4 linked regions of the Homo sapiens genome follow. The protein of the gene in region 4 purifies or fractionates together with the protein of the main gene of each other region. This does not show direct contact. Each region holds a gene or a part of one and is shown on either strand. Other genes may lie near its edges.

Evidence for each region.
Region 1: the proteins of MBD4 (region 4) and ACP3 purify together in Homo sapiens (affinity purification with mass spectrometry; one large-scale study listed by BioGRID and IntAct). This does not show direct contact.
Region 2: the proteins of MBD4 (region 4) and A2ML1 purify together in Homo sapiens (affinity purification with mass spectrometry; one large-scale study listed by BioGRID and IntAct). This does not show direct contact.
Region 3: the proteins of MBD4 (region 4) and RWDD3 purify together in Homo sapiens (affinity purification with mass spectrometry, with the first as the bait; one large-scale study listed by BioGRID). This does not show direct contact.

Annotation. Positions count from the first base shown.
Region 1 is NC_000003.12:132,341,407-132,344,906, reverse strand, and holds part of ACP3 (prostatic acid phosphatase isoform PAP precursor), read right to left. Parts: intron 2,356-3,500; coding exon 2,263-2,355; intron 1-2,262. UniProt on the Homo sapiens protein: A non-specific tyrosine phosphatase that dephosphorylates a diverse number of substrates under acidic conditions (pH 4-6) including alkyl, aryl, and acyl orthophosphate monoesters and phosphorylated proteins.
Region 2 is NC_000012.12:8,829,121-8,832,620, forward strand, and holds part of A2ML1 (alpha-2-macroglobulin-like protein 1 isoform 1 precursor), read left to right. Parts: intron 1-606; coding exon 607-659; intron 660-1,541; exon of another isoform or gene 1,542-2,186; intron 2,187-3,500. UniProt on the Homo sapiens protein: Is able to inhibit all four classes of proteinases by a unique 'trapping' mechanism. This protein has a peptide stretch, called the 'bait region' which contains specific cleavage sites for different proteinases.
Region 3 is NC_000001.11:95,240,710-95,244,209, reverse strand, and holds part of RWDD3 (RWD domain-containing protein 3), read right to left. Parts: intron 1-3,500. UniProt on the Homo sapiens protein: Enhancer of SUMO conjugation.
Region 4 is NC_000003.12:129,430,447-129,433,697, forward strand, and holds the end of MBD4 (methyl-CpG-binding domain protein 4), read right to left. Parts: intron 2,802-3,251; coding exon 2,652-2,801; intron 2,161-2,651; coding exon 2,057-2,160; coding exon of another isoform or gene 2,003-2,056; exon of another isoform or gene 1,730-2,002; intron 1,133-1,729; coding exon 1,055-1,132; 3' UTR 501-1,054; downstream 1-500. UniProt on the Homo sapiens protein: Mismatch-specific DNA N-glycosylase involved in DNA repair. Has thymine glycosylase activity and is specific for G:T mismatches within methylated and unmethylated CpG sites. Can also remove uracil or 5-fluorouracil in G:U mismatches. Has no lyase activity.

The DNA.
Region 1 (3,500 bases), 2.9 Mb from region 4:
GAAAAATGTATGTGTATTTATATGACTGTCCTCTTTGTTGACTTATCCTTTTTCACCTCACAAGAACTAGTAGGGCCAGACTTTCTTGTCCTGCCATTTCTTTCTAAAAGAACTTCATATTGTGATAAGTAGTGGTATTGACTTTCAGAAGAAAAGCTTATATAAATGAATTTACCCATTCCTACCCAGTCCATAGCTTTTGGTTTAACTCTGGATCAGTGGGTGGCTCATATTTTGCAGAGTAAGGGTGCAGTAGGGAAATAATACCTCATTCCTTTATGAAAGGGTTAGAAATCTTTCTATGAACCTGACAGAGTTAAATGATATTTCCTTAAAAGCTGAATGGGCTGCCTGAGAGGCCAGTTAGGAAAGGCAATATATTTCTGGAGCCTTCAGTAATATATTCTCCCCTACCCCCATCAAGGTCTAGTTTGCTGACTTTTTTTTTCTTTTTTTTTTTTCAGAGACATTGTCTTGCTCTGTCACCAAGGCTGGAATGCAGTGGCCATCACAGCTCACTGTAACCTCAAACTCCAGGACTCAAGCAATCCTCCTACCTCAGCCTCCTGAGTAGTTGGGACTATAGGTGCATGCCACCACACGTGGCACTTTTTTTTTTTTTTTTTTTTGAGACAGAATCTTGCTCTGTCATCCAGCCTGGAGTGCAGTGGCACGATTTCAGCTCACTGCAACCTCCACTTCCTGGGTTCAAGCGATTCTCTTGCCTCAGCCTCCCGAGTAGCTGGGATTACAGGCATGCGCCACCACACCCGCCTAATTTTTGTATTTTTAGTAGAGATGAAATTTCGCCATGTTGGCCAGGCTGGTCTCGAACTCCTGAGCTCAGGCAATCCGCCCACCTTAGCCCAAAGTGCTGGGATTATAGGCATGAGCCACTACACCTGGCCACACGTGGCTAATTTTTAAAAGTGTTTTGTAGAGGTAGGGCCTCATTATGCTGCCCAGGCTCATCCTGAACTTCTAGCCTCAAATGATCCTCCCATCTCAGCCTCCCAGAAGTGCTGGGATTACAGGCAGGAGCCACCATACCTGGCTGTAGTTCACTGACTCTTGAGGAAAGCCTGCACCTTGCACACAGTGGATACTTGGTAAATATGCGTTAAATGAATGGTTAAGTACAAGCAGGGCAGGTGAGACCTTGTGCCAATATTTATTACCCGTTAGGAAGAGTTGATTAGGAGTCCCCCAGTTTCAAAGGCAGGATTAAGAGTGAGAGAAAGTGAGTTCGTGAAAGAGGAGACCAAAGTGGAGTGACCTACAGAGGAAATAAGTGAGAGAGATTTGGAAAAAATATCACATGACATGACCACATTTTGGAATAGCTCAGATCAAACTGTAGTAAGGAAGAAAAAAAAATTATGACTGGAACAAAAATGGGGGCTCTTGTTTTCACTGAAGAGTCTTTTACAATGCTAATGAATTTTCACTGAAATAGTTGCTGATGATTAAGTGAAAATACTGGGAAAGTAGCATGTGATTGGGTCAATTAACTTTAGGATGGATGGAGGCAAACTGTGTCATCTGTTATTAAGATAGAACTACGGAAGTAATTGCTGCCCCCCAGACTCTCACGATGACCTCAAAGTTAGAAGTCAATATGAATTAGGTGGGTGGTCAGAATCTTGCCCCATATTTAGTGAGCTAGTTGGGAAAACAGGAACAGAGAGTACTCCTTTTGGCCAGAAGGTGGAGCATGGTGAGTGAGAAACACCATGTAACCTTGAAAAGCAATCGTAATTTATCTGGCCACAAACGGTATTTCAAATGCATCGCAAAGCAAGAAAGAAGTTCTTTCTTGTTAAGCAAATATAAATAGCCTGGCTTATATTTTGCTTGTTTATTTCTACATTCGGAAATCAGGTAATTTTCCCCTCTTTCTTTATAACAACATTGTTTTTTCATTAAGACCAAGGACAGGAACCCAGCATTTTTGAGTGGCTGCAAAATAAATAAGCTCCTACTGAATCCAAGGGGGGAAAAAACTAAAGTGGAAACTCATAGAAGAAAAGCAATTTTGCTTGTAATTTTCTAAAGGGTGAAAACATAAATAATAATAGAGAGAAAAGAGAAGTCAGCATTTTCAAGTTAATATAAGGAAGTTGTGAATTACGTTTCAATGTCAAAAGAAGTATAAGTAATACATTCATAAAGAAGTGAAAGAAAAGATATTCATCTATTTCAAAATAAGCATAAATCATAAAATCAGATTGCAAGTTAACCTGTGATTTTTTTTTCTTTTACCTCACAATATAAAGGGTCGTAGACTTTACTCCAAATTCCAAAAAGGTCCTGGCCATGTAATCCTGAAAGTTTTCCCAAGGTAGCTATAAAATCCTGAAACACAAACAGAGAAAGAAAAATTCCTACACAGGTTTCTCAGCTTCAGCATTATTGATATTTTGGGCCAGACAATTGTTTGTTGTAGGGAGCTCTCCTGTGCATTATAGGATGTTTCACAGTATCCTGGCCTCTGCCCACTAGATGCCAGTAGCATTCCTAATCTCCCACTTGTATAACCCAGAATATCTCCCGACATTGCCAAATGTTCCTTGTGAGGCAAATGCGCCCCTGTTGAGAACCGCTGTTCTTCACAGAAAAATGCACCAGTAATATTGGTTACGATAATGTCATTCCAAAGAATTTTACAAACACGAATTGATTATTCCTTATTATTACATTTAAAATGTAGATAGATGCTGGCTGACTGCCACATGTTCCTGGTTCGTGCTGGAATTGGATTGAAGTGTACTGCCTCAGATTCTTTTTAGAAGTGGGTAAAGTATAACTCATGTGTAAATATGTCCCAGGTGAGAAAGGAAAGCATATTTCAGGCCAAAGCATCCTGGAACATGCAACACAAATAGGGCTTGGTCTTTGGCTATACATATAAAACTTGGATGGAATGCAAATCTTTCGCTAGGTTCTGTATGTTTCTTGGAATGTCGCAATAATGAGACCCAATGTTCAGCTATCTGACTGCTGAAATTGGCAGCCATTTCTGGGAAGCCTTTTTGGAAGATATTGTCTGTCTGATGGATGAAATTTCTAGGGAACTACAATTTGCCAATATTAACCTCAATAGATTTTCATAAAATAATAGAAATTATTGTTAAAGAGCTCCTACTGCCATCTTCTCAAACATAAAAGCTCCAGGGCCAGATGACTGTCATAGAGGAATTCTACCAAGCTTTTCAAGAGTAAATTATTCTAATGCTATTTTAACTGTTCTGGAGCATAGAAGATGAAAGAAAACTTTCAAAAACTTCTTATGAATTAAGTGTAACACTGATACTGACAAAGATTGCCCCCAAAATAAAACTATTAGTTCAATGCCACTTGTAAATATCAATGCAAAAGGTGTAAGTAAAATAACAGGAAGTAATTCAATGTCACATAAAAGGAAATGGGTTTGATTTGAGAAATATAAAGATTGTTCAACATTGGTAAATCTATGAATGTAATCAATCATTGTAATTAAT
Region 2 (3,500 bases), on a different chromosome or scaffold from region 4:
TCTTCTGATTTTTGGTTCTTATGACAGTGCTGTTTTGCGTGGGCAGTTGTTCAGTTTGGTGTTACTGTGGGGGATGAGGAGGGTGGTCAATGGAGGCTTCTATTCTGCCTCTTGCTCTGCCTCCTGAGCTCCAGGCCTGTGTTTGGACTTTACCTTACTCTCAGAGCAGGTTTTGTAAAAAAGTAAAACCTGTTGGGGTTTTGCTGACTCAGAGCATGTGTGAGGAAGGAGGAGGGATAGAGGAAAGATTCTGAGCAGGAGGCGGAGCGCGGTGGCTCACGCCTATAATCCCAGCACTTTGGGAGGCCAAGGCAGGTGGATCACCTGAGGTCAGGAGTTCATAGACCAGCCTGGCCAACATGGTGAAACCCTGTCTCTACAAAAATTAGCCAAGTGTGGTGGCACCTGCCTGTGGTCCCAGCTACTCCGGAGGCTGGGGTGGGAGAATCACTTGAGCCCAGGAGTTTGAGGCTGAAGTGAGCCACGGTTGTGCCACTGCACTCCAACCTGGGTGACAGAGTGAGACCCTGTATCAAAAAAAAAAAAAAAAAAAAAATTCTGAGCCAGGAAACATCCCCTTTGCTAATGATGCCTGTTCCTTTCCAGTGTATTTCCGCATTGTCACCATGGATAGCAACTTCGTTCCAGTGAATGACAAGGTGAGTTGGGAGGAGGAGAAGGAGTGGCGCAGGGAGAACAGGGAAAAGGATGAGAGATTCTCTAGGGTGGAAGTCCTCTCAGCCTGGGCGTGGCAAGGCGAGGCCCTCTGGGTTGGAGACTGCTGTGTGCGTGGGACTGGAAGTGCTGGGCGAGCTTCAGGGAGCTAGCCTAAATCAGCCTAGGAACAAGCAGAGGTAACCAGTTCTCAGCTTCAGTATCTACACATTCATCAGGTTCTTGAGAGATGGTTATGCTCCTTGTCATTTTATTTTATTTATTTGTTTATTTAGAGACAGAGTCTCGCTCTGTGGCCCAGGCTGGAGTGCAATGGCGTGACCTCAGCTCACTACAACCTCTGCCTCCTGGGTTTAAGCAATTCTCCTGCCTCGGCCTCCCAAATAGTTGGAATTACAGGCGCGCACCATCACGCCTGGCTAATTTTTGTATTTTTAGTAAAAACAGGGTTACATCATGTTGGCCAAGCTGGTCTCAAACTCCTGACCTCAAGTGTTCCACCCACCTCGGCCTCCCAAAGTGCTGGGATTACAGACAAGAGCCACCATGCTCAGCCCCCTTTCATTTTAAGAGTTTTCGCAAACTTCAAGACCTTTTCTTCAGGACTGACAAAAGCATTTTTTTTTTTAAGGCAGAAAGGAGAATGTCCGCTTCCACTCTGTTTCTATGAGGCAAAATAATTTACAAAGTAGGTAATTCTCTTAGGGCAACATTAAATAAATACATGCCAAAGCTTAAAATGTAGCAACATTTTGCGAATATTTGATTTTTCCTTGGACTCCCCATCCCTAGAATCATAAGCCTTACCACAGGTTTGATTTCAAGTTGGAGCATGTGTCATTTCTACATGCTTCTGAGACACTTACCTCCCGGACACCCCTGCTTTCTTCCTCTTCCGTCTGTCCCAGCCTGTGTATTCAAATGAAACTTTTAGAGATAAACATAGAGAAAGCATGATTTCCATTTTCCATCTCCGTGTTCTCAGAGCTGCTGTTTCCTTTCCCTATGTGCAGGGGAGTTATTAGCTTGTTATGATTGGTAATGCCCTACCCGCTACTCTCTTTCCCAATATAGATTTCCTTTTACTTCCTCCTTCCCATCACCTATGGCTTTTCTTTGGTAGGTATAACGTTGAGTACTTCTTACTTTTTTTTTTTTTTTTTAACATTTTAAGACAAGGTCTCATTCTGTCACCTAGGCTGGAGTGCAGTGGCAGTCATGGCTCACTGCAGCTTTGACCCTGCCCCGGGCTCAAGTAATCTTCCCATCTCAGTCTCCCCAGTAGCTGGGACCACAGGTGTGCACTACCACACCTGGCTAATTATTTTATTTTTTTGTAGAGTTGTGGGGGGCGGGGGTCTCACCTTGTTGCGCAGGCCGGTCTTGAGCTCCTGGCCTCTCTCGCTTTGGTCTCCCAAAGTGTTGGGATTATAGGCCTGAGCCACTGCACCCGGCCTGAGTGCTTACTTCTTAACAGACTGTTTTCTCTAGAGCTGCAACAAGGAAGTGCTGGGTTCAAAGCGTGGCCCGCAGCAGCACTATTTTAGACTCACTTACCCTCAGGGTTGATCTCATTAACTACCCCTGTTACGATTCAAATGAAGCGGGATTACTTCCAGGTGTTCTGTTTTCTGCAGTTAGGCTCTTTCTCTTGTGAAATTACTCCTTCCTCCCCACTCTATTTCTCCAGCCAAACTCTCCCTCCAAATTCAGTTGAAACACTGAGATTAACAAAAGGAATTTTACCAAGAAAGCTAGGATAAAAATTGTGTTTATGTAACCACCCAATGGGTTCACCTTGCCTGCTGCTTAGACAGGGTTGATTTATCGAGACAGGGGAATTGCAATGAAGAAAGAGTAACTCACCCAGAGCCGGCTGTGTGGGAGACTGGAGTTTTACTGTTACTCAAATCAGTCTCCCTGAGCATTTGGAAATCGAGTTTTTTTTTGTTTTTGTTTTTGTTTTTTTTTGAGACGGAGTTTCATTCTTGTTGCCCAGGCTGGAGTGCAATGGCGCGATCTCGGCTCGCCGCAACCTCTGCCTCCCAGGTTCAAGTGATTCTCCTGCCTCAGCCTCCCAAGTAGCTGGGATTACAGGCATGCGCCAACACGCCCGGCTAATTTTGGTACTTTTAGTAGAGACGGGGTTTCTTCATGTTGGTCAGGCTGTTCTTGAACTCCCGACCTCAAGTGATCCGCCCGCCTCGGCCTCCCAAAGTGCTGGGATTACAGGCGTGAGCCACCGCGCCTGGCCAGGAAATCGAGTTTTTAAAGATAATTTGGCAGGTAGGGGCTTGGGAAGTGGGGAGTGCTGATTGGTCAGGTTGGAGATGGAGTCATAGATGGTCAAAGTGAGGTTTTCTTGCTGTTTTCCTCCTCCTGGGTGGGATGGCAGAACTGGTTGAGCCAGATTACTGGTCTGGGTGGTGTCAGCTGATCCACTGAATGCAGGGTCTGCAGAACATCTCAGGCGCTGATCTTGGGTTTTACAACAGTGATGTTCTCCCCAGGAGCAATTTGAAGAGGTTCAGACTCTTGGAGTCAGAGGCTGCATGACCCCTAAAGTGTAATTTCTAATCTTGTAGCTAATTTGTTAGTCCTGCAAAGGCAGACTGGTCCCCGGGCAAGAAGGGGGTCTTTTTGGGAAAGGGCTGTTATCAATTTTGTTTCAGAGTCAAACCATGAACTGAATTCCTTCCCAAAGTTAGTCTGGCTTACACCCAGGAATCCACAAGGACAGCTTACAAGTTAGAAGCAAGATGGAGTCGGTTAGGTCTGACATCTTTCACTTTCATAGTTTCCTCAGTTATAATTTTGCAAAGGCG
Region 3 (3,500 bases), on a different chromosome or scaffold from region 4:
TGGAAGGCATCCAAAAATAATCATTAGCTGTACATTATTCAATTTGAATGGAACACCAGCAAGTTCAAACTTTTGTCTCAAATGTCAATTTATTTTTCATGAGAAAACTCTGAGCTATTTTATGAAGGGACACGTAATACTAGGAAAGCTATGATTTACAAATTATTTCCTTCAACCATACACATGTATTCATGTATTCACACACACCAGCACCCAGGATTTAACTGGCATTTACACTTGCTATCACCCCATTTTTATTAAGTTACCAGAAAGGTTTTTCATCAGATAATTTTTTTTCTAGCCAGATTTAGTTGATAATTCTGAAAATCCCTAATAAACTCATATGAGCTTTCAAAGATACAATACCACATATATACAAAATCAGTAATTAACTTAAAAATTGTACACTAAATCCAACGAAAGTCATTTTATGAGAAGTCCAAGTCAAAGCAAGCAATGGAATCCCCTGTGGTTGTAGGGTTGCAGAGAAACTGATGACTGCATGTGACATAGTAACTGCCTGGAATGTTCTCTTCTTATTTCACATATATTAGTATCAGTATAATATGAAGGTGGCAAGATGAACTGAAATTGAGTGGACATCAATTCTGCCTCTTCCAGCTCCTAAGAAGGAAGGGGAAAGCACACATAGGATATCATATGAAATCCTCTGCTCTCTTTCAGATTTGCTTGGCTTCACCCTCTGATGTGTTCCACACCACTTCATGCCACTTTTCAAAAAGATGATAAAACGTCAGGCTGAGTAGAACAGAACTGGGTGCAAATAAATCTCTCTGAAGCTAACTTGCCTCTCTCTACCCCTACTTCCCTCTGCACGTGCCTTTGCTTTATTCCCCTGCATGAGAGAAGCAGTCAAATCTTTCCCATTTTCATACCTGGATTGCTGCTCAACAGCCTCAACAACTGAGACCTGAATGTATCCCCATTTTAAAGAACCTAACAGAACATTAAAATTGTTTCCTGAGCCTTCTGATTCCACATATATAAAAGCCATTGCTACAGATATTGATTCATACAGGACCAGACACATCTGTTACAGAGTTTTTCTTTCATACACTCTTCAGTACCAGCTGCAAGGAACGACTATTTTAGGACATCATCTGGAAACATAGACAGTTAACCGTTAAGAAGACCATATTAAAATGATACAATTTATATGTGTATTTCATAAGAAGAATTTTCCAAATCTAACTTTGTACATTCCTCCAAAACCCATCATGTTTCTCAAAACCCTTCTTCTTCTATCTAGTTACTTATTCTTTTTTTTTTTGAGACACAATCTCACTCTGTCGCCCAGGCTGGAGTGCAGTGGCATGATCTCGGCTCACTGCAACCTCCGCCTGCCAGGTTCAAGCAATTCTCCTGCCTCAGCCTCCCGAGTAGCTGGGATTACAGTCATATGCCACCATGCCCAGCTAATTTTTGTATTTTTAGTAGAGACAGGGTTTCTCCATGTTAGCCAGGCTGGTCTCAAACTCCTGACCTCGGGTGAACCACCCGCCTTGGCCTCCCAAAGTGCTGGGATTACAGGCATGAGCCACCGCACCCGGCCTAACTACTTACCCTTTTAAAAAAAAATACTTTATTGTTAAAGTAGGCTGCCTATGTTAAAATAGTACATTTCAATATGTAAAACAGACATTACAAATAGAACTGCAGACAACACACAACCATTTAGGCTGAATAAACTTTCTAATAATCATCTAGGGAGTTGACATTCTCTCTTCAAGAAGGAGGAGAACTTTTAAAGATCTTCAATCATTCATCATTGAACAAGCATTCACTGAACACCTACTAAGCTCAAGGCACTGTACTAGTCTCTGAGGGAAAATGACAGGTAAGACACAGATCCCATCATATTGACTCAATCCAGTGTTTCAGAACACGAGAGCAGGGATATATCCCAAGTGATCTTCCTTGACTTCTCTTCTACACCTAAACATTTCTTTATTCATAAATATGCGTACATATACATGTACATATAATTTATATAAACATAAATGTCTGTGTTGGTAGATAATTCTCCAGGGATCTGGTGTGGGAGTTCAGTCAGGGTGGTGGGAAAAACTGCAGAGGAAAAATTGTAAAGATAGTTATAGGAAATAGTCACAAACCTTCTTAGAAGGCTGGGGGGTGGTGGTGCATAGCTTCAGTAAAAGATTTGGCTGAAAGCAGCCGAATCCTCTTTACCTCGAGTTGATAGCAAAAGAGCAAATAACAAGGGAATGTGGGAGAGTTTACCTAAATAGCTTGTTTACTCATGTGGTCCTAAGAGCAACCTTTGATTATCTGTGGGTGCATGACTGCTCTCCCCTGGGGGGGGTGGGGAGGGGTGGCAATGTTAATTACCTTCTAGTGGTGTTTACTCATGACCCTTGTCATTTAATCTGTACTAAATAAATGTGAACTTCACCGGCTTATCATGGCCTACACTGCAGATTCAGGAGCAGAACCCCTTTAGCCACACTGACAAGCAAAATGTCTGTGTCAGTGTACGTCTCTCATCCATCACTAGGTCAGTGTCTGCGGGTCGGATGCCCACAATCTGGCATTTCTGAATGCCTTCTGAGCAAAGGGCATTAATATCTTTGTTCAAGGACTTTTGCATAACCGACAGCCTTGGAAGCTAGAGTTTATCCCTCCAGGTCAGGGGGCAGATTTGTTTCCTAAGCAATATAAGGTAACATATTCCTTCAGGACAAAGATTGAGCAGGATCACTAGCAGCTCCCTCATAATACCGGAGGGTTCCTAAGCTCACTGCCCCTCAGCTATAACAAAGACCCACTGAGTGCATTGTATGCACCTCAGCCTACCTCTACATCACCCCATTGAACTTGGGGGACAAGGAGAATCAATGTGAACATGAAGCTAATGCTGCCTGCTGTGCATTAAGCAGTAACTGTCCAAATCCATCTGGGTTCACTGTCTCCTTACTGGCTGAATCCATGGAAGTGTGTTAGTGACCAAGGAACTGCAGTTGTCATTGCTGCCTAGGAACTGCTGGGCCACTTGATTATACTTTTTTTTTTAATCATCTTGCTCTTTTTCACTGTTTTATCTGAGAAAGAAGTGTCTTCCTCCCTTCCACAGGAAACTCTATCACTGGTCTTGTGCTTGTTTTTTGTTTTTGTTTGCTTTTTGAGATTGAGTCTCACTCTGTCACCCATGCTAGAGTGCAGCAGGGTGATCATGGCTCACTGCAGTGTTCAGGCTGGTCTCAAACTCTTGACCTCAGGTGATCCACCCGCCTCAGCCTCCCAAAGTGCTGGGATTACAGGTGTAAGCCACCACACCTAGCCTAGGCATAAAATCTTAAAGCTGCCTTCAACTTTTTTTTTTCCCTCCTTCTTTCATACTTAGCATTCAACTGCCAAATCCCACAAGTCCTCCAGAATTTCTCTCCCTTCCACCCTCCTAATTCAGGCCTTTCTCTGGCTTCTGCAATAGTGGTCTCCTCGCCGCCTGCCTCTCCCCACAC
Region 4 (3,251 bases):
TGGCATTAAGACTTATTTTTTTTAAGACAGGGTCTTGCTGTGTCATCCAGGCTGAAGTGCAGTGGTGTGATCATAGCTCACTGCAGCCTCAATCTCCTGGGCTCAAGGGATTCTCCCACCTCAGCCTTCTGAGTAGCTGGGACCACAAGTGTATGTCACCATGCCCAATTAATTTTTAAAATTTTTTGTAGAGACGGGGTCTCATTATGTTGCCCAGTCTGGTTTTGAACTCCTGGGCTCAAGCAATCCTCCTGCCTCAGCCTCCCAAAGTGCTAGGATTACAGGTGTAAGCCACTGTGCCTGGCCAAATGGTATAAACTCCAAATGGAAGATGAGAAATGAGTTTTCACAAAGGGACCAAGGTAAAAGAGTGAGTGAGCTGAAATGGAGCAGCAGGCCCATATTCACATTAGGTTATCAAATGGATACTGGGGTGGAATCTACAATTCCTAAGAGCTAGTGTGGAGCTGTCAACAATACACAATGCCAGAGGAATCTTATTTGTCTTTGGGGTCAGCTTTTATTTTTATTTTTTAAATATATATTTTTTGAGACAGGGTCTCTCTCTGTCATCCAGACTGGAGTGCAGTGGCATGATCATGGCTCACTGAAGCCTTGACCTCCTGGGCCCTCATGAGCTCAAATGATCCTCCTGCCTCAGCCTTCCGAGATTACAGGCATGCACCACCACGCCTAGCCGATAAAAATATTTAGTGGGCCCCTAGCTTTAGCAAGGCTGATAGAAATTTGCTTTGTATTATTGATAGTTTAGAACTATTTTTCATCTTCTGATTATATTTCATCATTGGAAAAGCCGTATTTTTTTTGGATTGTTGTCAAATAATAATTTATTTTAAAAAAATCTCAAAACATGTTCAAACACATTCAGTAGCAAAGATCCACCATTGGCACACACATTAAGAAAGCACACACACTAGGCTTCTAGTTGGGCTAATTAAAATCTCTATGGCTGGAAAGGTGGTTGGTTGTACTTAATTAAGCTTTTTTGAAGTGCAAAGCTATGCATAACAGATGAGCTTGAAAGCTGCAGAGTTTAAGATAGACTTAATTTTTCATGATTTTCCCAAAGCCAGTCATGATATTTATTTAATTTGTGGTCTTCAGGGTGCACCTGGAAGAAACATAAGATACAGAGGCAGAGACCTTAATGTAACTTAGTCAGAAATACATTTTTTAAAATTGGCTTTTTAAATGTTTGCTGGGGGACAGTACATTACGATACCATACCTAAAAGTTATAACCTTTAACCTCCTGGGATTCATGAATATTTTAAGTTATACCTTATATTAAGGTAATCTCACACAATTTACAAGGTACTGTCCAAATTACTACTCAACCATGACTTAGAATGTGGGGTGGCGATAACATGAGTCAAGTATTAATACCTCACTTTCCAGAAGGAGGTTCTAGACCGAGAGGTTAAATGGATTCTCAGGTCACAATGGATTGCTCTGATGAAGCTGGGATAGGACCATGGTCCTTCAGTTCAGGCTTGGCCAGACCTACTGGCTGAATGCATGAGGGTGAGTCTCAAGCTGAGTGGGCAGCATACCAGGCCACCCACCAGCTGCCAGGATGACCACCAGCATGCCACAGGCTGGGCATATTCAACAGGGCTGAAGCAGGACCCAGTCACCACAAACGTAGTCTGAGACCACTAAGAGAAACCCAATATGCATACATTGCAGGCCCAAACCTTCCTGCTTTCCTGTAGTGGTGTACTTTTGACAGGAGGAAAACCACGTCAGGCTTAGAGATAGCACACAAATAGGGAATGACAGGAACAGGGCCAGAGGTGACAAACCACTGGAGATGAGTCAGAGGCCACGCCGCTGGACTGGTCTTTGTGGACTTGGGAGCGCCTACTGATCAAAAACCCCAAAACCCACATGCCACCCGCTTCCCCGCAGCCAGGAACACAATTGTTTGTGACTGTAATAGCATTTGTATCCAATAAATAGTCTTAACCATAATGGTGGACTTATTTTGCCTCAGAGACCAAATGTGCTGAATTATGGATGGGAGTGAGCCTCACCTGCTTCCACTCATTGACACAAAAAATTCGGTAAGAGTCGTTGCCATATTTACCAATCCCATGAAGCTCAATTGGATACTTCCACTGCTTTGTCAGGTATTCATCTGAAGAATACAACATCCCACATTATCAGGTCAGCTTCTAAAGACACCCTCCCAAAATGTGTGGTGATGGGGCAGGATGGAGAGAACAGCAGAAAGGGACAGGAAAGGCTCTTTCCCAGCAACCCCAGTTGTGATTACTCTTCCTTCTGAATTCCTGCAGCACCCATATCATTTGCCAATTCCTAACCACTCTTTTGTGCTGTGCTAACAAGACAGAAGTCATGTCCTTGAGGTCAAGAACTGGGCTTTCTGCTTCACTGACTTCTTCCCCTAATTCTGCCCACATGCCTGACCCAGTGCTGGGCAAAGATTTATTGTTTAGGTCAGTGGGAGACTGTGGTTTGGGGAAAGTGGACTTTTTTAAATGCCTTGGGTGCTTGAGCTGAAAAACCTCCATTAATATAGTATCTGAGAACATTAAAGTTTAAGGTGTGGCTCTCTTAAATAAGCACAATGTATTATGTTTTTCCTTTGGGTGTATAGGAAAATACCTGAGAACTTGACAATGGTTTTTGCCCGAAGATCGTAGAGACCAAGAGGTTTAAGAAGTTCTGACACATCTCTCCAGTCTGCGGTTCTTGCTACCTCAGCTGAAGGATACTTCTCCAGAAACTTCCAAAGCACAGGTATTGCCATTTTGCCTGGGAAGTAAAAGTAACTGAATGATTACAAGACTCCAGGTGGGCTGATTTCATGTTCAAGTAGTTTCTCATAGAAATCTCATCCAGAGGGTTTTTTTTTTTAAAGAAAACAAAAAACAAAAAAACACTGGTGAGAAGCCATTATCTGAACCAGCAACCACTTTCAGAATCAAATGCCAAAACTGCTAATATATTGGGCTAATAGTCCAAATTATGCTGAAAACTGGCCTTGCATGATTAGCTTTTAAATGATCAGATCAGCAGATAATGAGAGTAGAAGCATATAGAACACAAGGTACATTCAGTGAAAAAGATACTTTTAAACACACATGAAAGAGGGTGGAGAAACGTTAACTGATTTTCACTGATGATCAAAAAGAATTTGGAAGTATAAAATAAATAAAATCTACCTCTTTATTCTAAAAGGTCTGTTGGATGTCATCCAGTCTC